6 separate regions of the Homo sapiens genome follow, and regions 1, 2, 3, 5 and 6 are each linked to region 4. The links come from fine-mapping of genetic effects on plasma protein levels. A gene starts in region 4. Each other region holds a variant in brackets. All regions are shown on one strand. Distances are from middle to middle.

Region 1 (4,105 bases), 3.0 Mb after region 4:
TTATTATGGTTGTTTTTGTTTTTTGAGACAAGGTCTTATTCTGTCACCTAGGCTGTAGTGTAGTGGTGCAATTATGGCTCATGATAGCCTTGACCTCTTGAGCTCAAGTGATCCTCCTACCTCAACCTGCCAAGTAGCTGAAACCACACACCTAGCTAATTAAAAAAAAAAAAAAAAAGTGTTTTTTGGTAGAGAAAGCATCTCCCTATGTTGCCCAGACTGGTCTCAAACTCCTAGGCTCGAGCAATCCTCCTGCCTTGGCCTCCCAAAGTGCTGGGATTACAGGCATGAGCCACTGTGCCCAGCTTGTTTTTCTTACTACTGTTGCATCTAAGAAAATTCCAAACGAGCCCAGTGCGATTCTAAAATCTTGGTGACAGCAGCAGACCCTGGGGGATTCTTATTTGGCTCCATGACTGATTCTCTGTAGGGATGGTATTGATCAGATTAAAAATTGGCCGGGCATGCTTTTCTTCATTAGAAAGGTTTATGTCTTTTCCCCGACGTTAAGGTTTTAGGCACAGGGTTATATTTATTTAGCAATATTCACTATTGTCCCCTAGCAGTTGACCCATCAAGGACTGAATGAATGGGCAAGGTACCTTGGAGCCTGGCTTTATGACTAGTCAAAATTCTACATAGTTATTTCATTCCAGCCTGAGCTTGCTCTGTCCATTGCTTTGGAAACTGATGTGAATTTAGAAGAGCACAGAAACATAAGCAGAGAGCAAGATGTAGGCAAAGTTCATGGCCACTGAGGAATACAGCGCTGAAGGTCAGAATGTCAGCTCAGTCATCTGTCAAATGCCTTTCTCCTAAAGCACTTATAGTGATTGAATGAGACTTGTTAAAGCACTTTACAAATATAAGGCAGATATAAAGATAAACCTTCCCTGGGCCTCTACAGCATGTGCTTCACTATTTCCTAACACTTTGACATCAACCTGAGAGGAGGATTCAAAATGCCACGGGGCAGAAGCTGGATCAAGTCCAAGGATATGGGAGCCAATGATCAACGTAGCCATTGGCATTCATTTCCAAACTCTCCTTCTCAGGTTAGGATTCTCGTACCTTATTTTTGGGTGTCTTTGATTAGCTTGGCATAATACTGAGCACAAAACACACCTTTTTTTTTCCCTTTTGTTTTTTTTGAGACGGAGTCTCCTGGTGTTGCCGAGGCTAGAGTGCAGCGGCATGATCTCAGCTCACTGCAACCTCTGCCTCCTGGGTTCAAGTGATTCTCCTGGCTCAGCCTCCCAAGTAGCTGGGATTACAGGCGTGCGCCACCACGGCCGGCTCATTTTTGTATTTTTAGTAGAGATGGCATTTCACCATGTTGGCCAGGCTGGTCTCCAACTACTGACCTCAGGCGATCTGCCTGCCTCGGCCTCCAAAAGTGCCAGGATAACAAGCGTGAGCCACCACGCCCGGCCAAAACACACCTTCCTTTTTTTTTTTCTTTTTTTTTGAGATGTAGCTTCGCTCTTGTTGCCCAGGCTGGAGTGCAATGGCACGATCTCGGCTCACCGCAACCTCCACTTCCCAGGTTCAAGCGATTCTCCTGCCTCACCCTCCCGAGTAGCTGGGATTACAGGTGCCTGCAACCATAGCCAGCTAAGTTTTTTGTATTTTTAGTAGAGATGGGGTTTCACTATGTTGGCCAGGCTGGTCTCGAACTCCCGACCTCAGGTGATCCACCCTGCCTCGGCCTCCCAGAGTGTTGGGATTACAGGCGTGAGTCAACGTACCCAGCCAAAACACACCTTCTTAACTGAACTGGGCTTTTACATCCAAGAGGATGGGGGACGTGGGGAGCCTGTTTGTGAGGCAATTAGTGGGGGAAAAGGAAGGAGAGCGGCCACACAGGAAAGGGGCCCATGCAAGAGGAGGAGGGAGATATGAGGGAAAATAAACCTACAGCTACAGGGTTGATGGAGACCCACGTCTTTCATTAGCCACATCACAACCTTCTTCCTTGCTGACACAGCTTGACTTTGGAAGCAAGAAGACAGCATAAGACATAATGCTTTATCAGAGGCAGGAAGCGGTGACTTGAATTAAACAGGTTACTGACGTGGTTCATTGACGCATTTG[G/T]TGTACCAATCTACCTCTGAGAGAATTTCAGAAAATACACAGCTCCAAGGCTGGGTGTGGTGACTCACACCTGTAATCTCAGCACTTTGGGAGGCCGAGGTGGGCAGATCACTTGAGGTCAGGAGATCAAGACCAGCCTGGCCAACATGGTGAAACCCCATCTCTACTAAAAATACAAAAATTAGCTGGGTGTGGTGGCACACGCCTGTAGCCCCAGCTGCTCCGGAGGCTGAGGCAGGAGAATCGCTTGAACCTGGGAGGTGGTGGTTGCAGTGAGCTGAGATCATGCCACTGCATTCCTGCCTGGGCGACAGAGCAAGACTCTGTCTCAAAAATAAATAAATAAATAAAAATACAAAAATTAGCCGGGCATGGTGGCAGGCACCTGTAATCCTGCTACTCCGGAGGCTGAGGCAGGAGAATGCTTGAGCTCGGGAGGCAGAGGTGGCAGTGAGCCGAGATCACGAAACTGCACTCCAGCCTGGGTGACAGAGTGAGACTCCATCTCAAAAAAAAAAAAAAGCAAGAAAATACACAGCTCCAGTGCTTGCCTAAAAGCAAGGAGGCCCATACATTTGAAGGCCGGAAATAGGGCCACCAGAAAAAGTCAACCCCAGCCTCAGGGGGAAAAAAAGCAGCGGGCTGAAGATGTAATAGACTGAGCAGCCTCAGGAACTGTGGCTTTAAGAACTCTGATGGCATTGTGGCTTCTCTGTGCTGTCACATATCTTTTCCACTGGTGCTCAGAATGGTTTTCCTCAAGTCGCTGGCAATCAAATCTTGAAAATGATGCACCCTCGGCTGGGCGTGGTGGCTCACGCCTGTAATCCCAGCACTTTGGGAGGCTGAGGCGGGCGGATCACAAGGTCAGGAGATCGAGACCATCCTGGCTAACATGGTGAAACCCCGTCTCTACTAAAAGTACAAAAAATTAGCCAGGCGTGGTGGCAGGCGCCTGTAGTCCCAGCTACTTGGGAGGCTGAGGCGAGAGAATGGCGTGAACACAGGAGGCGGAGCTTGCAGTGAGCCAAGATCGCGCCACTGCACTCCAGCCTGGGCAACAAGAGTGACACTCTGTCTCACAGAGCAAGGCTCCGCCTTAAAAAAAAAAAGAAAAAAAAGAAAATGATGCACCTTCAAGGGCACATACGAAGTGGGGAGCTGGGAGACACCATCACATTCTGTAGCGAGGCTCAGGGAGAATCATTCCAAGGAACAGAGACAATAATAGGAACTACTGGTGAGAAAACAGAAAGCAGGCCATGGCTCTGGAGTCTGTGGCAGGAAACAGGAGAGGTATAGGTTTAGGTCTCAGAAAGGGTCCTGAAGGGCTGAATGAAAAAATGTCAAAGATAGGCTCAAAACATCAGGTTTATGCGTAAGTACTTATTCCTAAAATGCTACTGGTGCATGCAAACCTGCACTGGCCTAAAAATGACTTTTCTTTTTTCTTTTTAGTTTTTAGAGACAGAGTCTTGCTCAGTTGCCCAAGCTGGAGTAAGGTGATTGTAACTCACTGCAGCCTTGGGCTCCTGGTTCAAGCAGTTCTCCCACCTTAGCCTCTCCAGTAGCTGGGACTATAGATGTGAGCCACTGCACTTGACTAATTAAAAAAATTTTTTTTTTGTAGAGACAGGGTCTTGCTCTGCCATACAGGCTGGTCTGGAAATCCTAACCTCAAGCAATCCTCCTGCCTTGGCCTCCCAAAATGCTGGGATTACAGCATGAACCACCTCATCTGGCCTAAAAATCACTTTTCTAAGCAACTTTTAGATAACAGTACTTTACAACATAGCCTGGATCCAGTGTTGACAGTGACAATCTCAAAAGCCCCCTAGGTGGAGCTGTTGTCCATTGGTGAAGATTCGAGGCTCGTCAACAATCCTTTCCAGGATTAATCCTACTTAGCCACAGAGTCATTTCAGCAGTGGTAAAGCCCAAGGCCTCCAAGCCTGGGGCTCTACCTTACAGAAAAAAAAAAAAAAAAAAAAAAAAAAGAAAGAAAGAAAAA
Region 2 (4,000 bases), 570 kb after region 4:
TGTGGCCAGGTGCAGTGGCTCATGCCTGTAATCCTAGTACTTTGGGAGGCGGGCAGATCACCTGAGGTCAGTAGTTCAAGACCAGCCTGGCTAACATGGCAAAACCCTGTCTCTGCTAAAAAATACAAAAAGTAGCCGAGCGTGGTGGCAGGCACCTGTAATCCCCGCTCCTCAGGAGGCTGAGGCAGGAGAATCACCTCGGGAGGCGGAGATTGCAGTGAGCTGAGGTTGCACCACTGCACTCCAGCCTGGGCGACAGAGCAAGATTCCATCTCAAAAAAAAAAAAAAAGAAAAAAGAAAAAACAGGGATTCAAATGGATTGTTGTAAGCCAGTGTTCACAACAGCATCATTCATAATAGCTAAAAGGTGGAAACAACCCAAGTGTCCATCAATATAGATAATACATAACAGATGTGATATATACTTACAATGGAATACTATTGAGCCATAAAAAAGAATGAAGTTCTGATATATGCTGTGACACAGATGAACCTTGCAAACACTATGCTAAGTGAACTAAGCCAGACACAAAAGAACAAACATTGTATGATTTCACTTATATGAAATATGCATAATAGGCAAATCTGTAGAGATAGAAAGTAGATTTGGTTACTGGGGCTAGGAGGAAGGGAAAATGGGGAGTTACTGCTTAATGGGTACAGCATTTTTGTTTCAGGTGATGAAAAACATTTTGGAAATAGATAATGGTGGTGGTTATTCAGTATTGTCAATGTACTTAATGCCCACTGAATTGTACCTTTAAAAATGATTAAATGGCTGGGCATGGTGGCTCACACCAGTAATCCTAGCACTTTGGGAAGCGAAGGCAAGAGGATTGTTTGAGGCCCGGAGTTCCAGACCAGACTGGGCAACATAGCAAGCCTTGTCGCTACCAAAAAAAAAAAAAAAAAAAAAAGAATTGCAAATTTTATGTTTCTATCGATCGATCTATTGACTGAACACCACAACTTATTTTTATTTTTATATTTTATAGAGACAGGGTCTTGCTGTGTTGCTCAGGCTGGTCTTGAACTCCTGTGTTCAAGCAGTCCTGCCTTGGCCTCCCAAAGAGCTGGAATTACAGTGTGAGCCACTGAACCTGGCCCAAACACCACAATTTTATTTTATTTTTATTTTATTTTTTTGAGATGGAGTGTTGCTCTGTTGCCCAGGCTGATCTTGGCTCACTGCAACCTCCGTCTCCCGGCTTCAAGTGATTCTCCTGCCTCAGCCTCCTGAGTAGCTGGGATTATAGGCACGCACCACCATGTCTGGATAACTGTTGTATTTTTAGTAGAGATGGGGTTTCGACATGTTGGCCAGGCTGGTGTGGAACTCCTGATCTCAGGTGAGGTCCCAGCTACTTGAGAGGCTGAGGCAGGAGGATCACTTGAGTCCAGGAGTTCGAGGTTGTAGTGAGCTATGATGGCACCACTGCACTCCAATGGGACCCTGTCTCTTAAGAAGAAGAAGAATATTATAAAGAACTTTAGGCCGGGCCTGGTGGCTCACGCCTGTAATCCCAGCACTTTGGGAGGCCGAGACGGGTGGATCACGAGGTCAGGAGATGAGACCATCCTGGCTAACATGGTGAAACCCCGTCTCTACTAAAAATACAAAAAAATTAGCCAGGCATGGTGGCGGGTGCCTGTAGTCCCAGCTACTCAGGAGGCTGAGGCAAGAGAATCGCTTGAACCTGGGAGGCGGAGCTTGCAGTGAGCCGAGATCACGCCACTGCACTCCAGCCTGGGCGACAGAG[C/T]GAGACTCTGTCTCAAAAAAAAAAAAAAAAGAACTTTAAGCCAATAATTATTCTACAACATAAAAGAAATTGACAAAACATAGGGAGATCCTGTCTCTACAAAAAATAAACCATAAATGCTTCTCACTGATTTTCAGATTATAGAGCCAACTGTGTACATCTGAGAGTATAAAAGCAGAAATGTAGCTGACAGACAAAAGGTGGGATGTGGAAGTGAGACCAAGTTACTTTTTTTTCCCTTCAAAACCTCCTCCTCAAGTTTCTGGATATATGTATTTTTAAATTGTATTAAGAACACTTGAGAGGGGTCTTATTTGTGTTTTAACTCACTAAGATCCAGAAGACACTACAAACAACCCATTTGATTAAAATGGGCACAAAAAACTATTACGGATACAGCACGGCAAACAGAAGGATGTTTTATCTTCGAGATGCCAGGGGTGGAAGTTCTGTGTAGTGAGGCTGGGATAGCCTGATGCTCAGTGTGGGCAGAACACAGATTTTTTTGGACCGTCTTGGAGGGAGAAGTGTTGATGTCCCTTTGGCTGACACTGTCAGGCAGAAGGAAACTAGATCTAAAGGAGGACACACACAGGAAATGGCAGCATAAAGCACTTAAGTAACTAGAGGGTTAAGTGATGCCAGGTGTGGGTGTCACCTAGCGAACACAGTTCTTTTGAATGGTACAAAAAATCAGTAATTGAAAGTGAGAGGGCCAGATAAGAGAAGGGGAAATATAGACTTATCCAGGAACAAAGGTAAGCATCAGATTTAGCTTGGGGATGGACGGTCATCCATTTTCTGGAAGTTACTGTCTGCTGGCTGTTGTTCTGATATTGATCTGTAGTTGGTTCAGGGCAGGTGATGTCTTCATGCTGTGTGGGAAAGTGAGTGCCAACAGTCTGTGCTGCATAGACTCGGCCTGTGTTGACATTTGTTTACCAACTGCCCTTTTTTTAACAGGCGTGGTATCTGTCTGTTTTGAGGGGGACAGTGATGGTTACATCAACTTAGTGGCCTATCCTTATGTGGAAAGTGAGACTGTGGAACAGGATGACACAACAGAACGGGAGCAACCTCGGCGCAAACACTCCCGCCGGAGCCTGCACCGGTCAGGCAGTGGCAGTGACCACAAGGAGGAGAAAGCCAGCCTGTCCCTTGAGACCTCTGAGAGGTAAGAGGTACATGTTTCGTCCTGCTGGTACAAGCACTCAAGACGTCTCCATAGTCCTGACACATCATGGGGAAGCAGGGCTCACAGTCAAGGTTGGATAAGATGACTGGTGTTCTTGGGATACCCACACAGGTGTAGCCTCTTCTCTGTGTCACATCACCCCAGTGGTGCCTCTTTCTGGGTATAGCTGTAGCTGGTTGAGAGAGGAAGTGAAGCTCTCTCAGCCGTTTGGAAGCAGGGACACCCTGTGCTGGTGACAAAAGGTTCTCTGGCTTTTCATTATGTCTTGCCACCCACAGGACAGAAGGTTGAAATACATTAGTTCGTAGCGAGGCTCCAAATGCTTTCTGACCTGCAGGATGTCCAAGCCCAAGGGCTATGAGTCCAACCAGGAGTTCCCTAATGGTTTTTGTGTCAGACCTCTGAGAATCATATCAGTCATTAACGCTTTCCCTGCAACTAAAATTTAGTTTCCGTTGTGTTGGAAATTGATTTTTCTTGTAAGTTCAAATTATGTTTTTTTGTTTGTTTTGAGATGGAGTCTTGCTGTTAGGCTGGAATGCAGTGGTGCCATCTTGCGTCACTGCAACCTCTCCCTCCTGGGTTCAAGCAATTCTCCTGCCTCTGCCTCCCAAGTAGCTGGGATTACAGGCGTGCACCACCACACCCAGCTAATTTTTGTATTTTTAGTGGAGATGTTGTGTCACCATGTTGGCTAGGCTGGTCTCGAACTCCTGACCTCAGGCGATTCGCCTGCCTTGGCTTCCCAAAGTGCTGGGATTATAGGCATGAGCCACTGTACCAGCCTCAAATTATGTGTCTTGATAATTTCATGCAAGAATTAATATGAACTCCCACTAGGATGGGTATAATCAAAAGGACAGACAATAAAAGTGTTGACAAGATGTGAAGAAATGGAACCCTCCTACACTGCTGGTAGGAAGGTAAAGTGGTGCAGCCACTTGGGAAACAATTTAGCAGTTCTTCAAAAAGTTAAACCAGGCTGAGTGCTGTGGCTCACGCTTGTAATCCTAATGCTTCAGGAGGCTGAGGTGGGAGGATCCT
Region 3 (4,105 bases), 1.8 Mb after region 4:
ACGGTCCTGAGGGTTGTAATCTCTGGTGGTTGGAAGTGCAAGGCCTCGCAGCTAGATTCCGTGGCTAGCCAGATGTGCTCTGTGAGAACCCTGGCCACGCTCACAGGCCTCTTTCTACTTTCTCTCTGGACAGGGACCTGTCCTATATCAAGATCATGGATGTGGGCCAGAGCTACGTGGTGAACCGTGTGGCTGACCACATCCAGAGCCGCATCGTATATTACCTCATGAACATCCACGTGACCCCCCGCTCCATCTACCTCTGCCGGCACGGGGAGAGCGAGCTCAACCTCAAGGGCCGGATTGGCGGGGACCCAGGACTGTCCCCTCGGGGCAGGGAGGTCAGTGCATGTGTCCCTGCGTGCGCACACGGGCCTGCATTTGTACCCTGCGTGGCTGGGTATATGCATGTGTGAGTGCGCTGGGGCTAGGCTCCCATTCTTTTAATGTGCAGTCGAGGTGAATGACCTTCATTCAACCTAGAATCTTCCCATCATGTAGGGAAGGTCATCAAGCAACAGGCAAATGCCTGGATCTCTGGTTTCCATGTGAGCTGTCACTCACTGAGCCCCTTTTGTCAGAGGCATGCCACCCTTAGAGCGACCTGAGTCCATACAGTGTAGCAGATAGCTGTGCCACAGTCCAGGGGAGACCTCAGTGGTCACGTAGCACAGGGCACCTGGTTGTGGGGAGGCAGTGGCCCTGATGAGTCTCAGCTGTAACTGTGCTGCTGTGCTCAGGGTCTGGGAGGGTGCACAGGAACAGCACTTGTGTTCTTGTGTGTCAGCATGTGTGTCATCGACAAGTTAGTTCATGCTTTTTACCAAACCTGTAGTGAGTGTTCAAGGCGAGGGTGATCTCATGGACCCTGCGGCTATGGGATGCTTTAAGGGCAGCCCAAGACCTGTGGGTCTGAGTTTGCTTATGATGTATTTCAGTTTGCCAAGAGTCTAGCCCAGTTCATCAGTGACCAAAATATCAAGGATCTGAAGGTCTGGACAAGCCAGATGAAGAGGACAATCCAGACGGCTGAGGCACTGGGTGTGCCCTATGAACAGTGGAAGGTCCTCAACGAGATCGATGCGGTAGTTACCGTCCCTCCCTCCCTGTCTACCTCCCAGATACCGCAGGGCTGCTGCATCATATTGTAACAACAGTGACCATTGCTCCCCTTGGGCAAAGGAGAGGAGAGAGAAAGGATACAGGAACCTAGGGGCTGGGAGCAGAGAGGAAAAGGCAGCCTAACAGGATGGGACCTTGGGTGAGCCCTAGACCATTCTCAGGAGTGAGCCTGGGAGTTGACACCTCAACCTCACTCTCCTCCCTCCCTGTGGCCTCCTGCTAGGGTTCCTCATGGTCTAGCTCAACAAGAAATCAGCGGCCACGGGAGCTTGGTAGCTGCAGTCAGCCATAGCCAACCTCCCAGGGATCTGGAGACACAAATGAGGTGAACCAGCACGGCCTTTGTCTCTTTAAAGATGCTGTTCTCGCCAGGTGCGGTGGCTCACCCTTGTAATCCCAGCACTTTGGGAGGCTGAGGCGGGCGGATCACCTCAAGTCAGGAGTTTGAGTCCAGCCTGGCCAACATGGTGAAACCCCATCTCTACTGAAAATACAAAAATTAGCCAGGCATGGTGGTGGGTACCTGTAATCCCACGTACTCGGGAGGCTGAGGCAGGAGAATTGCTTGAACCCAGGAGACAGAGGTTGCAGTGGGCTGAGATTGTGCCACTGCACTCCAGCCTGGGCAACAGAGTGATGTTCTGTCTCAAAAAAAAAAAAATGCTCTTCTGCTGACTTCTGGGTTGCATTGTTTCTAAGAGAAGTCTGTTGTCATTCTCATCTTTGCTCTTCTGGATATAATGTTACCTCCTTTTTCTCTGACTGCCTTTAATATTTTCTTTTCTTCTTTTTTTTTTTTTTTTCAAGACAAGATCTTACTCTGTCACCCAAGCTGGAGTGCTGTGGTGCAATCATAGCTCACTGTAGCCTCAACTTCCTGGGCTCAAGCCATCCTCCCATCTCAACCTCCTGACTAGCTGGGACTACAGGCACTTGCCACCATGCCAGGCTAATCTTTTCTAATTTTTGTAGAGACGGAGTCTCATGATGTTGCCTAGGCTGGAATATTTT[C/G]TCTTTATTGCTGATTTTTAGCAATTTGATTATGATGTATCTCAGTATGGTTTTCTTTATGTTTATCATCCTTGGGGTTTATTGAGATTCTCGGATTTCTGGGTTTCTAAATATAAAATGTGAAGAATTGTTGGCCATCATTTCTTCAAAGGTATTTTCTGCCACCCCTTCTCCCATCCTGGACTCCCACTCTGTGTGTGTTAGACTGTTTGGTATCATCCCACAGGTCACTGAACTTCTGGTTTTTTAATTTCTTCTGTTCATTTCTTCTCTGTCTTTTTTTCCTTCCGAGCTTTAATTTAGATAGTTTCTACTGCTATGTCTTCAAATTCACTTATCTTTACTTCTGCATTTTTATTAAACCCATCCAGTGAACTTTTCATATCAGATGTGGTGTTTTGAAGCTCCAGGAATTTCATTTTGTTCCTTTTTTGAATCTTCCATTATTTCTTCATTATGCTTGGCTCTGCAGTCCAGGAAGTGCCTCTGGGCAGTAAGCTGCTGCCTCCTCCCCTCAGCTTGCTTCCCTTCTCTCAAGGATCACAGTCCTGCCTAGTCTCGTGTCTAAAAACAGTTGTTTGATTTGTCCCTTTATTTATTTATTTTTTTGAGACGGAGGTTTGCTCCTGTTGTCCAGGCTGGAGTGCAATGGCACGATCTCGGCTCACTGCCACCTTCGTCTCCCGGGTTCAAGCGATTCTTGTGCCTCAGCCTCCAGAGTAGCTGGGATTATAGGCACCCGCCACCACACCAACTAATTTTTGTATTTTTAGTAGAGACAGGGTTTCACCACGTTGGCCAGGCTGGTCTTGAATTCCTGACCTCAGGCAATCCACCCACCTCAACCTCCCAAAGTTCTAGGATTACAGGTGTCAGCCACAGCGCCCTGCCAATTTGTCCTTTTTTAATAATAGTTGTTTTTGTTGGGGCCAGAGCAAATCTGGTACCAGTTGCTCCATCATGGCTTGGTCTTTATTATGGGTGGTTCCCATTTCAATATGAAAAGCTTTTTCTGTGGATATATACTTTGACTAATTTGAATATTACCACCCCTGCTTTTGTTTTTCCATTTTTTTTTACTGTGGTAAAATATGCATAACATAAAATTTACCATCATAGCTGTTTTGAAGTGTACGTTTCAGGAGTATGAAGTACATTTACATTGTTATGCAACTCTCACCACCATGCATCTCCAGAACTCTTTTAATCTTGTAAAACAGAAACTCTGTACCCACTGAACAATAACTCAAGCCAGATGTGCTGGCTCACACCTATAGTCCCAGGTACTTGGGAGGCTGAGGTGGGAGGATTGCTTGAGCCCATGAGTTTGAGGCTGTGGTGTGCTATGATTTCATTCACGATTGGCCCTTGCACTCCAGCCTGGACAACATAGTGAGACCCCATCTCTAAAAAAATTTTAAAAAGAAAAACAATAACTCTATTTGCTACTCCCAGCCCCTGGCAACCACTTTCTGTCTTTATGACTTTGACTACTTTATATACCTCATATAAGTGAAATCATATAGTATTTGTCTTTTTGTAACTGGTTACTTTAGTTAGCATAATATCCTCAAGGTTCATCCATGTTGTAGCTTGTGCAAGAGTTTCCTTCCTGTTTATTTTTTAAGACAGCATCTCACTCTGTCACCCAGGCTACAGTGCAATGTGGAAATCACTGCAGCCTCAAACTCCTAGACTCAACGATTCTCTTGCCTCCCTAGTAGCTGGGACTAACAAGTGCACACCACCATGCCTAGATAATTTTTTTATTTTTTGTAGAGAAGGGAGGCTCACTATATTGCCCAGGTTGGTCTCAAACTCCTAGCCTCAAGCGATTCTACCACTTTGGCCTCTCAAAGTGCTAGGATTACAAATGTGAACCATCACACCCAGCCTTAAGAATTTTCTTCCTTTCTAAGGCAGAATAAGATTCTATTGTATACCACATTTCGTGTATCCATTCATCTGCCAA
Region 4 (4,086 bases):
GCCTCAGCCTCCTGAATAGCTGGGATTATAGGTGTGGGCCACCATGCCTGGATAATTTTTGTGTTTTTGTTGTTGTTGTTGTTGTTGTTGAGATGGAGTCTTGCTCTGTCACTGAGGCTGGAGTAACAGTAGCATGATCTCGGCTCACTGCAACCCCCACCTCCCAGGTTGAAGCAATTCTCCTGCCTCAGCCTCCTGAGTAGCTGGGATTACAGGCACCCACCACCATGCCGGGCTAATTTTTGTATTTTTAGTAGAGATAGGTTTCACCATGTTGGCCAAGCTGGTCTCAAACTCCCGACCTCAGGTGACCCGCCCACCTCGGCCTCCCAAAGTGTTGGGATTACGGGTGTGAGCCACCACTCCCAGCCAAAAAAAATTTTTTTAATCTTATTACCATATTTCAGCTAGAACAAAATGCTGCTAAAGTAACAATGATCACACAAAGTATATGATTTCTGAGTGCTGTAAGTGTAAGCAGAAGTTAACACCAGCTGGTTGTTAAATGCTAACTTTAGTCATTTAAAGGAAATTGCAAGGCAGAATCCCAAGCCAGTTTCTTACCTAGTGATGGGTCTCAGGCTGTAGACTGCTCTCTACCATCCCAGAAGCAGGAAAAAAAAACTAATTTTCCCTGTTGGAAGCGAGCTCAAACTCCATAAAGGAGTTACCTGCCTTCCATCGTCATGGAAGCAGAAAAACTTGCTTTCCTTTTGGGAGCAAGTAAAACTCCAAAAAAAAAAAAAAAAAAAAAAAGAGTTGTACAGCAAAATAAACTTTAGATCTCAACCAATTGAGAAATCAAGGATTCTCTGGAGGGGGTGCTCCCAGACCTCAGCAAATTGTCCTATTGGTTTGAGCCATAAAGTTAGCTCCTGCTGGTACCAAGCACAGATAGGCAATTAGTCAAAAGTCAAGGACATCTCCACACAGAATCCATCCATAGTTACCAAATGTGAACCCAGAAAATCTGAGACAGCTCTCAGTTAATTTAAAAAGTTTATTTTGCTGAGGTTGAAGATGCATCCAAGACACAGCCTCAGGAAGTCCTGATGACATGTGCCCAAGGTGTTCCGGGCACAGCTTGGTTTTATACATTTTAGGGAGATATGAGACATCTATCAATACGTAAGAAGTACCTTAGCCAAGCGTGGTGGCTCAAGCCTGTAATCCCAGCACTTTGGGAGGCCAAGGTGGGCAGATCACAAGGTCAGGAGTTCAAGACCAGCCTGGCCAATATGGTGAAACCCTGTCTCTACTAAACATATAAAAATTAGCTGGGTGTGGTGGCACGCGCCTGTAGTCCCAGCTACTCTGGAGGCTGAGGCAGGAGAATCGCTTGAACCCGGGAGCCAGAGGTTGCAGTGAGCCGAGATCATGCCATTGCACTCCAGCCTGGGCGACAGAGTGAGACTTCATCTAAAAAAAAATTAGGCCAGGCGCGGTGGCTCACACCTGTAATCCCAGCACTTTGGGAAGCTGAGGCAGGCAGATCACAAGGTCAGGAGATCGAGACCATCCTGGCTAACACGGTGAAACCTCGTCTCTACTAAAAATACAAAAAATTAGCCAGGCGTGGTGGCGGGCGCCTGTAGTCCCAGCTACTCGGGAGGCTGAGGCAGGAGAATGGCATGAACCCGGGGGGCAGAGCTTGCAGTGAGCTGAGATCGCACCACTGCACTCCAGCCTGGGCGACAGAGCGAGACTCCGTCTCAAAAAATAAAAATAAAAAAAAAACAGAAGTACATAAGCTCTGTCCAGAGAGGTGGAGACAGCTCAAAGCACGGCCCCCCACTGGGGGCTTCCAGGTCACAGGCAGGTGACAGACAGATGGTTGCATTCTTTTGAGTTTCTGGTAGTCTTTCCAAAAGAGGCAATGGAGGCAATCATAATATGCATCTATGTCTGTAAGCAAAAGGATGACTTGAATAGAATGGGAGGCAGATTTGTCCTGAGCGGTTCCCAGCTTGAAGGGGCCCAAGATATTTTCCTTTCACATATTGAACAAGTGAAACCACAAATGAATGAACAAGCATGTGCTCACTGACAGCTCATATGCATGGTCACACAAACACAGGATCTCATGCTCACAAGACAGCAGGGCTCACACACACCCAGTCCCAGGCACTGGGTTCCACACTCACACCTACTTGCCACTGGAATTTGTGCAGAGGCTCAGATGGTCACTAAATGGGGCTTCACAAAGACACAGTCACTAACCCAGCACATATACAAAGGGTGATGACACAGCCCTGACTTCATGAACACAGTGCCTTTCAGAAACAGGTCCCTACAACAGGGATGACTTATCCACTAAGCACAATAGACCCAAGGCCTAGGGCCACAGTACTTTCAGGGGCCCACAAAATGTTTTTTTAATCAGAAGAAGAATATAAATGTAAATATATTAATAATTAATATATAATAGTGTAACCCAGACATGACCTCCTGGGCTCAAGCACTCCTCCTGCCTCAGTGTCCCAAGTAGCTGGGACTACAGGTACATACCACCATGCCCAGCTAATTTTTAATTTTTTTGTAGAGATGGGGTCTTGCTACATTGCCTAGGCTGGTCTCGAACTCCTGGGCTCAAGCAATTCTCCCACCTCAGCCTCCCAAAGTGCTAAGACTATAGCCATATATATATATATATATATATATATATATATATATATATATTTTTTTTTTTTTTTTTTTTTTTGAGATGGAGTCGCTCTCTGTCACCCAGGCTGGAGTATAGTAGCACAGTGGAGCAGTCTTGGCTCACTGCAACCTCTGCCTCCCGGGTTCAAGGGATTGTCCTGCCTCAGCCTCCCGAGTAGCTGGGATTACAGGCGCCTGCCACCACGCCCGGCTAATTTTTTGTATTTTTAGTAGAGAAGGGGTTTCACCATGTTAGCCGGGATGGTCTCGATCTCCTGACCTCGTGATCTGCCACCTCGGCTTCCCAAAGTGCTAGGATTATAGGCGTGAGCCTCCGCACCTGGCATGCCTGGCCATATTTTAAAATATTTTTTTTAAGGAGGAAAAGATCCACGAAAGTAAAGTGCCTAGGGCCCATCAATGTCAGATGCAGCCACGTGGACAAAGAACACTCCCTGAGCACAAGACACGAAAGAACCCGGTCTCCAGTGTCACAAACAGGCCTGCCCAGCAGGGTCTGCCCCTGCCCACCTCCTCCAGCCTAGGTAAGGCCACAAAGCCCTGCCCTAGTGCTGACAGCGTGGGAGGGGCCACTGTTGGCCCAGCCCCACCCCCAACCAAGATCCCTTTGCCAGGGATTCAGAGGTAGCCCTGATGCCTGGCTGGCCTGGCCTCCTAATCCAAGGCCCGCCCCTTGGCCCGCCCCTGGCCTGGGTGGGGTGACCCCCTACAAAAGCTCAGAATTTCCAGCAGCGGCTCCTTCCTCCAGGAGTCTCTGGTGCAGCTGGGGTGGAATCTGGCCAGGCCCTGCTTAGGCCCCCATCCTGGGGTCAGGAAATTTGGAGGATAAGGCCCTTCAGCCCCAAGGTCAGCAGGGACGAGCGGGCAGACTGGCGGGTGTACAGGAGGGCTGGGTTGACCTGTCCTTGGTCACTGAGGCCATTGGATCTTCCTCCAGTGGCTGCCAGGATTTCTGGTGGAAGAGACAGGAAGGCCTCCCCCCCTTGGTCGGGTCAGCCTGGGGGCTGAGGGCCTGGCTGTCAGCCACTCTTCCCAGAACATATGTCATGGCCTCAGTGGCTCATGGGGAAGCAGGGGTGGGCGAGCTTAGGCTAGAGCAAGTCCTGTGGGAGATGGCAGAGGCCTGGTCTGAGAGGCAACTCGGATGTGCCCTCCAGTGGCCATGCTCCCCTCCATGCGTCTCCCCTGCCCTCCTGGAGCCCTGCAGGTCAATGTTTAACAGAAACCAGAGCAGCGGTGGATTAATGCGCAAGGGCTCAGCCCCCCAGCCCTGAGCAGTGGGGGAATCGGAGACTTTGCAACCTGTTCTCAGCTCTGCCTCCCCTGGCCAGGTTGTCCTCGACCAGTCCCGTGCCATGGCAGCCCACCTGCTTCCCATCTGCGCCCTCTTCCTGACCTTACTCGATATGGCCCAAGGCTTTA
Region 5 (4,105 bases), 950 kb before region 4:
TAACTATCCTAAATATATATGCACCCAATGCAGGAGCACCCAGATTCATAAAGCAAGTCCTTAGAGACCTACAAAGAGACTTAGACTCCCACACAATAACAATGGGAGACTTTAACACCCCACTGTCAACATTAGACAGATCAACGAGACATAAAGTTAACAAGGATATCCAGGAACTGAACTCAGCTCTGCACCAAGTGGACCTAATAGACATTTATAGAACTCTCCACCCCAAATCAAAAGAATATACATTCTTCTCAGCACCACATTGCACTTATTCCAAAATTGACCACATAGTTGGAAGTAAAGCACTCCTCAGCAAATGTAAAAGAACAGAAATTTTAACAAACTGTCTCTCAGACCACAGTGCAATCAAACTAGAACTCACGACTAAGAAAGTCACTCAAAACTGCTCAACTACATGGAAACTGAACAACCTACTCCTGAATGACTACTGGGTACATAACAAAATGAAGGCAGAAATAAAGATGTTCTTCGAAACCAATGAGAACAAAGATACAACAGAACAGAACCTCTGAGACACATTTAAAGCAGTGTGCAGAGGGAAATTTATAGCACCAAATGCCCACAGGAGAAAACAGGAAAGATCTAAAATTGACACCCGAACATCACAATTAAAAGAACTAGAGAAGCAAGAGCAAACACTTGCTTCTCTAAAAAAGCTAGCAGAAGGCAAGAAATAACTAAGAGCAGAACTGAAGGAGATAGAGACACAAAAAACCCTTCAAAAAATCAATGAATCCAGGAGCTGGTTTTTTGAAAAGATCAACAAAATTGATGGACCACTAGCAAGACTAATAAAGAAGAAAAGAGAGAAGAATCAAATAGATGCAATAAAAAATGACAAAGGTGATATCGCCATCGATCCCACGAACTACAGACTACCATCAGAGAATACCAGAAGCACCTCTACGCAAATAAACTAGAAAATCTAGAAGAAATGGATAAATTCCTGGACACACACAACCCCCCAAGACTAAACCAGGAAGAAGTTGAATCCCTGAATAGACCAATAATAGGCTCTGTAAATGAGGTAGTATTTAATAGCCTACCAACCAAAAAAAGTCCAGGACTAGACGTATTCACAGCCGAATTCTACCAGAGGTATAAAGAGGAGCTGGTACCACTCCTTCTGAAACTATTCCAATCAATAGAAAAAGAGGGAATCCTCCCTAACTCGTTTTATGAGACCAGCATCATCCTGATACCAAAGCCTGGCAGAGACACAACAAAAAAAAGAGAATTTTAGACCAATATCCCTGATGAACATTGATGCGAAAATCCTCAGTAAAATACTAGCAAACTGAATCCAGTAGCACATCAAAAAGCTTATCTGCCAAGATCAAGTGGGCTTCATCCTTTGATGCAAGGCTGGTTCAACATATGCAAACCAATAAACATAATCCATTATATAAACAGAACCAAAGACAAAAAACCACATGATTATCTCAATAGATGCAGAAAAGTCCTTTGACAAAATTCAACAGCCCTTCACGCTAAAAACTCTCAACAAACTAGGTATTGATGGGACGTATCTCAAAATAATACGAGCTACTTATGACAAACCCACAGCCAATATCATACTGAATGGGCAAAACCCAGAAGCATTCCCTTTGAAAACTGGCACAAGACAGGGATGCCCTCTCTCACCACTCCTATTCAACATAGTGTTGAAAGTTCTGGCCAGGGCAGTCAGGCAAGAGAAAGAAATAAAGGGTATTGAATTAGGAAAAGAGGAAGTCAAATTGTCCCTGTTTGCAGACGACATGATTGTATATTTGGAAAACCCCACTGTCTCAGCCCAAAATCTACTTAAGCTGATAAGCAACTTCAGCAAAGTCTCAGGATACAAAATCAATGTGCAAAAATCACAAGCATTCCTATACACCAATAACAGACAAACAGAGAGCCAAATCAGGAATGAACTCCCATTCACAACTGCTTCAAAGAGAATAAAATACTTAGGAATCCAACTAGCAAGGGATGCGAAGGACCTCTTCAAGGAGAACTACAAACCACTGCTCAACAAAATAAAAGAGGACACAAATAAATGGAAGAACATTCCATGCTCATGGATAGGAAGAAT[C/T]AATACTGTGAAAATGGCCATACTGCCCAAGGTAATTTATAGATTCAATGCCATCCCCATAAAGCCACCAATGACTTTGTTCACAGAATTGGAAAAAACTACTTTAAAGTTCATATGGAACCAAGAAAGAGCCTGCATTGCCAAGACAATTCTAAGCCAAAAGAACAAAGCTGGAGGCATCACGCTACCTGACTTCAAACTATACTACAAGGCTACAGTAACCAAAACAGCATGGTACTGGTACCAAAACAGAGATACAGACCAATGGAACAGAATAGAGCCCTGAGAAATAATACCACACATCTACAACCATCTGATCTTTGACAAACCTGACAAAAACAAGAAATGGGGAAAGGATTCCCTATTTAATAAATGGTGCTGGGAAAACTGGCTAGCCATATGTAGAAAGCTGAAACTGGATCCCTTCCTTACACCTTATACAAAAATTAATTCATGATGGATTAAAGACTTAAATGTTAGACCTAAAACCATAAAAACCCTAGAAGAAAACCTAGGCAATACCATTCAGGACATAGACATGGGCAAGCACTTCATGTCTAAAACACCAAAAGTAATGGCAACAAAAGCCAAAATTGACCAATGGGATCTAATTAAACTGAAGAGCTTCTGCACAGCAAAAGAAGCTATCATCACAGTGAACAGGCAAGCTATAGAATAGGAGAAAATTTTTGCCATCTATCCATCTGACAAACGGCTAATATCCAAAATCTACAAAGAACTTAAACAAATTTACAAGAAAAAACCATCAAAAAGTGGGCGAAGGATATGAACAGACACTTCTCAAAAGAAGACATTTATGCAGCCAACCAACATATGAAAAAAAGCTCATCATCACGGGTCATTAGAGAAATGCAAATCAAAACCACAATGAGATACCATCTCACACTAGTTGGAATGGCGATCATTAAAAAGTCAGGAAACAACAGGTGCTGGAGAGGATGTGGAGAAATAGGAACGCTTTTACACTGTTGGTGGAAGTGTAAATTAGTCCAACCATTGTGGAAAAGACAGTGTGGTGATTCCTCAAGGATCTAGAACTAGAAATACCATTTGCCCAAGCCATCCCATTACTGGGTATATACCCAAAGGATTATAAATCATGCTGCTATAAAGACACATGCACATGTATGTTTACTGCGGCACTATTCACAATAGCAAAGACTTGGAACCAACCCAAATGTCCATCAATGATAGACTGGATTAAGAAAATGTGGCACATATACACCATGGAATACTATGCAGCCATAAAAAGGATGAGTTCATGTCCTTTGTAGGGATATGGATGAAGCTGGAATCCATCATTCTGAGCAAACTATCGCAAGGACAGAAAACCAAACACCACATGTTCTCACTCATAGGTGAGAACTGAACAATGAGAACACTTGGACACAGGGTGGGGAACATCACACACTGGAGCCTGTTGTGGGGTTGGGGGATGGGGGAGGGATAGCATTAGGAGATACACCTAATGTAAATGACGAGTTAATGGGAGCAGCACATCAACATGGCATATAGATACATATGTAACAAACCTGCACGTTGTGCACATGTATCCTAGAACTTTAAGTATAATAACAATAATAAAAAAACAAAAACAAAAGCAAAAACAAAACCCAAGCCCTTTCCCATCTAGGCTTTTAAATATTCTGTTTCCTCAGTCTGGAGTGCTCACTCCCTAACTGTTAACACTGACTTCAGCTCAGAGATCACCTCCTCAGAGAAGCTTTCCCAAATCCTTGATCTGAAGTAAACCCTCCTTTCCAGCCAGTCTGTTCCATAATCTTGTTTATTTCCTTCATAGTACTCATCGAGTTTGTTTGTTTGTTTGTTTTCTCTTGAGATGGAGTTTTGCTCTGTCACCCAGGCTGGAGTGCAGCGGCACAATCTTGGTTCACTGCAACCTCCGCCTCCCAGGTTCAAGCAATTCTTGAGCCACAGCCTCGTGAGTAGTTGGGATTACAGGTGCATGCCACCATG
Region 6 (4,089 bases), 1.9 Mb after region 4:
AACTCTAGGCAGAGGGGGTCTCGAGGGCCATTTTCCATGGTCCTGTTCCTGGACTTAGGGTTTCTGTGTTGCCTTCCAAATCAGGGCATCCTAGGGCCGGCTCCTAAACTGTCTGCCTCCATGAAGGCCGCCTTATATGGTTCTTCCTGATTTGTACCTGGAGGTGAGCTTGGAGACTGTCTTATCTGGTCTCATGTTGCTAGTTGGGTCTGTAGGGCAGGGGGTTGATACTCCTCTTGACTTGAGACCACCCTCGGCCTTAGCAGAAGGCCAGCCCCCCATGGAACAGAAGAGATAGGGTGGCAGCTCTGCCTGGCAGATGAGAGGAAGGCCCTTCAGCCTTGAGGCCTTCAGAGGGATCATCCCTTTGGCCCTCTGCTTATCCTCCATAACCCAGTGACCCTTAGCATTTCCTCTCGTCTGGCACAGAGACCACAACCTCCCCTCGAGGTCTTCATTGAGTGTTTAGAGAGAGACAGACTGATAGAATTCCAGGAGGACTCCTATCCCCTGCCTTTTTTTGGCCCTAAATAAAGCCATCCACTGTAGGGTTGCCCCTACAATCCACAAAGTCCTTGTCCCTAAGGAGCCATGTTGGTCTTGTCTGTGCCGGGGGTAGTCATAGCTGCTATTCTTCGCTGTGGCTCCATTGTCCCTTCTTTCCCATTTCTGCCGGATGTGGGGACCACAGTCAGGTCAGCAGCCAGGTGCCATCATTTGGGAGCATGTGAGCTTGGATGCTCTGGCCAGGTTTTCATAGCCACCCAGAATGGTCCTGACTTTTCCCGTTGGAGACCATGGAATGGGTCTCCATCTTGACCATCTCTGGGAGCAGGGTGGATGGGAAATCCACTTGAGGGTGGACTTCAAGCAGACACAGAGGGAAGCAGCCTTGGTCAGCACCACAGACCTCGACAGAGCCATGCCTCTGTTCCAGAGGCCTCTCTGTTCCAGGTTCAGGCCCCTGCAGGTTTTAGGGGTAGGTGAAGGCTCCCGGGAGAGGGGGGCCATGTGCCTGCAAGCCTGGGCACGTGCCCGCGGGAGGGGTGAGTACTGAACGTGCTTTGAGTCACTCACTGAGTCATGGCTCAGCCGCCACAGAACATTGTTATAATAACAGACATAGAGAAGAAAAACCTGGCACAAGAAGATAGGAAATTCTGTCTTCACTCCAAACCATGACCAAGAATGGAGATTCCAACACCAGCAAGAATTTGTGATCGCTTAACTTGGGTCATGACCACAATTTCAGCATAGAACATTTGTAATTCAGTTTGATCAATCTTTTCCTAATTTTTATTAAGACTGCAACGAAAGTGTGCCCTCATTATTACATTTTTCACAAACCTGTTAGCATACAAAGGGCCTTTGTTTCTCATTACCACCCGGGGCTCCTTAAGGCGTTTTATGGAGTGATGTGCTTTATTAAAAAGCGTTTTCACCAACTTAAAAGTTGGAATAATTGTCCAAATGGTTACATGACCCAGGAGTTCTATATTTTTATTAATTTTCTGATACTGAAATAATCGTGCTAATTAAGATAACAGCTGAATTTATGCTGATGAATGTTGGAATTCTTAGAAGCCACCTGAAACCTTCCAAATGGTCAGGACCTGGATCCCACTGGCCAGTGCCAACAGGTGACTCTGGGTGGTGCTGGGGGATACAGGGAACCTAGCTGTGTTCTGCTTGGCACCAATGGCTGCTGATGCATGTGTTTCCTCCACCAGGTTCCCTAAGGATGCCACATTGAAGAACAAATACACCCCAAACTACCTAGGTCAGCTGACTGGCGATGTTTTATGGATCTCTCTTTAAAAGTGTTCTGTCGGCCAGGCGCAGTGGCTCACCCCTGTAATCCCAACACTTTGGGAGGCCGAGGCAGGCGGATCATCTGAGGTCAGGAGTTTGAGACCAGCCTGCCCAACATGGCAAAACCCCGTCTCTTCTAAAAATACAAAAAATTAGCCAGGTGTGGTGGCG[G/A]GCGCCTCTCATCCCAGCTACTCAGGAGGCTGAGACAGGAGAATCGCTTGAACCCGGGAGGCGGAGGTTGCACTGAGTCGAGATCGCGCCACTGCACTCCAGCCTGGGTGACGAGCAAAACTCCATCTCAAAAAAAAAAAAAAAAAAGTGTTCTCTGTCTTAATTAAGGATGATGGTTTATCCAATTCCAAATGTTTACCAAAAATCTAAGATAAGGATATCACCATGATGTTTGAAAGAGAATTTATGCCCTGGTTGTGATGTTGGGGTTTTATTGATAAGAGTTTCAGTTATCTGGATGATATGTGCACGTGTAAGGAAACAGAATGGTTTGCCAGTTGTCCAGGTGGCCATGAAGAGAACCTCTGGAGGTCTAGGAATGTGAAGCTCAGATTTTGGAAACCTGGTCCGGTGTCCTGGGCCACAGGTAAGTGGCTGAAGCTGGTGGTTTGCTGCCATCTTCTGGCCATAGTGTGGAATTTATCAGAAGCAGCTACCAATGAGGGTGTCTGGAGCTCTATAAATTGCAAGCCTGGGCAAGATAGCCAGACCCCATCTTTACGAAAACTGTTTAAAAATTAGCTGGGCATGGTAGCACACATCTGTAGTCTCAGCTATTTAAGAGGTTGAGGTGGGAGGATTGCTGGACTCCAGGAGTTTGAGGCTGCAGTGAAAGATTATGCCACTCCACTCCAGACTGGGTGACAGTGAGACCCTGTCTCTTCAAAAAAAGAGAGAGAGAAATCACAACAGTGGAATTCAGTAGTGCTGGAGCTTAGTGAGTAATCTTACCCTGTCTTTAACGTGAATTCTGGTTTTAGGGTGAGCTATGTCTTAGGACATAGTTGAGATAACAGTGAGTGACTAGTCAAGAAAACAGCCGGGCACAGTGGCTCACACCTGTAATCCCAGCACTTTGGGAGGCCAAGGTGGGTGGATCACTTGAGGTCAGGAGTTCGAGACCACCCTGATCAACATGGTGAAACCCCATCTCTACTGAAAATACAGAAATTAGCCGGGTGTGATTGTGTGCACCTGTGATCCCAGCTACTGGGGAGGCTGAGGAAGGAAAATCACTTGAACCTGGGAGGCAGAGGTTTCAGTGAGCTGAGATTATGCCACCACACTCCAGCCTGAGCTGAGATTATGCCACCACACTCCAGCCTGAGCTGAGATTATGCCACCACACTCCAGCCTGAGCAGCAGAATGAGACTCTGTCTCAAAAAGAAAACAACAACAACAACAACAAAAAACCAGAAACCACTCTAGGTGTTTCCAATGGAAGGAATTTAAATATAAGGGATTGATTATGAAAGTGTGTGAAGGACAAAAAGGGGAGTAGTTATCCAGCGGTGAGTGACTATAGAAGCCTCTGTCACCTATAAGCTGGCAAAGGGGGCAGCAGTGTTACCCACAGCCTCTGACTGCTGAGTCAGTGGCGCCCGTGGGAAGCCAGGAGCTGCATGCTGGCTGACGCTGCAGGTGCCTGGGAACCTGCTAACCTGGCCCCTCCACCCATGCTGGTGAGTTGGTGCTGCTGGGGCACCTGCTGCCCTAGTGAATGGGTGCCACCAGGAAGAGAGGATTCAAGCCTGTCTTGCTCAAGACCTCCTCCACCACCAGACTTGCCTCAAGATCTCAGGCCCAAGAAGCCCCAGGGAGTGGAGTGACAGGAGCCTTGCTCTGGGAGGCAGGAGACCTGGATTCTAGTTCCTCCTCCTCTCACTGACTGGGCCTCTGGAGAGAAGGGCAGGGACATTCTGGCATGTGGCAGGAGCCACTCTGTGTCATGGGGTTGGATCCCAAGCTGGCACCTGGCAGGATTTAATGAAGAAACATTTATCAAGTGCTGGATCAGTCCAGCTCCTGGCAGGAAACTGACAGCATGTACCAGGAAAGATGCAGCTGGAAGAGAGTTTAATGAGGGGACTACTTACAGAGCTGCAGGCTCTGGGAAGCCAATAAGGGATGGTGAAGCACAGCTGTTACCAGTCCTGGGCTCTAGGGGTAGGGACAGAGTAGTCATCAGGACCAGTGGGGCTGTGGCTAAAGGTGGAAGCTTCAGAGGGAGGATGCTGGGGGAATAATTACCCTGGCCTCTTGTT

Direction of the effects. Positions count from the first base shown, and alleles are read on the strand shown. Strength reflects both the effect of a copy and how common the allele is.
For the plasma level of the protein whose gene starts at base 3,402 in region 4, allele T in region 1 goes with a lower level than allele G (moderate association).
For the plasma level of the protein whose gene starts at base 3,402 in region 4, allele T in region 2 goes with a lower level than allele C (moderate association).
As copies of C replace G in region 3, the plasma level of the protein whose gene starts at base 3,402 in region 4 goes up (weak association).
For the plasma level of the protein whose gene starts at base 3,402 in region 4, allele C in region 5 goes with a higher level than allele T (moderate association).
With allele A in place of G in region 6, the plasma level of the protein whose gene starts at base 3,402 in region 4 is lower (strong association).

The links. PIP is the posterior inclusion probability: the model's chance that the variant is causal. Protein levels are from antibody-based Olink assays in UK Biobank. Linkage for the fine-mapping came from a reference panel and not from the study's own genotypes, which makes the PIPs less certain.
Region 1: its variant is fine-mapped to the plasma level of the HYAL1 protein (UK Biobank, PIP above 0.99).
Region 2: its variant is fine-mapped to the plasma level of the HYAL1 protein (UK Biobank, PIP above 0.99).
Region 3: its variant is fine-mapped to the plasma level of the HYAL1 protein (UK Biobank, PIP above 0.99).
Region 5: its variant is fine-mapped to the plasma level of the HYAL1 protein (UK Biobank, PIP above 0.99).
Region 6: its variant is fine-mapped to the plasma level of the HYAL1 protein (UK Biobank, PIP above 0.99).

Annotation. Positions count from the first base shown.
Region 1 is chr3:47,324,285-47,328,389 of GRCh38, reverse strand. All of the region lies in intron 3 of KLHL18 (kelch like family member 18), which reads right to left. Among named protein-coding and RNA genes, the nearest start is that of KLHL18, 43 kb to the right of the region's middle. The variant G/T (reference allele first, on the strand shown) is at 2,095.
Region 2 is chr3:49,737,147-49,741,146 of GRCh38, reverse strand. IP6K1 (inositol hexakisphosphate kinase 1) reads left to right here. Exons shown (of 6, transcript NM_153273.4): 3 at 2,725-2,935. Among named protein-coding and RNA genes, the nearest start is that of GMPPB, 15 kb to the right of the region's middle. The variant C/T (reference allele first, on the strand shown) is at 1,762.
Region 3 is chr3:48,532,492-48,536,596 of GRCh38, reverse strand. It overlaps PFKFB4 (6-phosphofructo-2-kinase/fructose-2,6-biphosphatase 4), which reads left to right. Exons shown (of 14, transcript NM_004567.4): 8 at 134-341; 9 at 939-1,085. Among named protein-coding and RNA genes, the nearest start is that of MIR6823, 15 kb to the left of the region's middle. The variant C/G (reference allele first, on the strand shown) is at 2,134.
Region 4 is chr3:50,302,890-50,306,975 of GRCh38, reverse strand. It overlaps HYAL1 (hyaluronidase 1), which reads left to right and starts at 3,402. Exons shown (of 4, transcript NM_033159.4): 1 at 3,402-3,510; 2 at 3,996-4,086. The coding sequence starts at 4,020. RefSeq lists enhancers at 2,997-3,166, 2,984-3,918.
Region 5 is chr3:51,250,479-51,254,583 of GRCh38, reverse strand. All of the region lies in intron 22 of DOCK3 (dedicator of cytokinesis 3), which reads right to left. Among named protein-coding and RNA genes, the nearest start is that of MANF, 130 kb to the left of the region's middle. The variant C/T (reference allele first, on the strand shown) is at 2,108.
Region 6 is chr3:48,399,411-48,403,499 of GRCh38, reverse strand. No RefSeq gene overlaps it. Among named protein-coding and RNA genes, the nearest start is that of PLXNB1, 29 kb to the left of the region's middle. The variant G/A (reference allele first, on the strand shown) is at 1,984.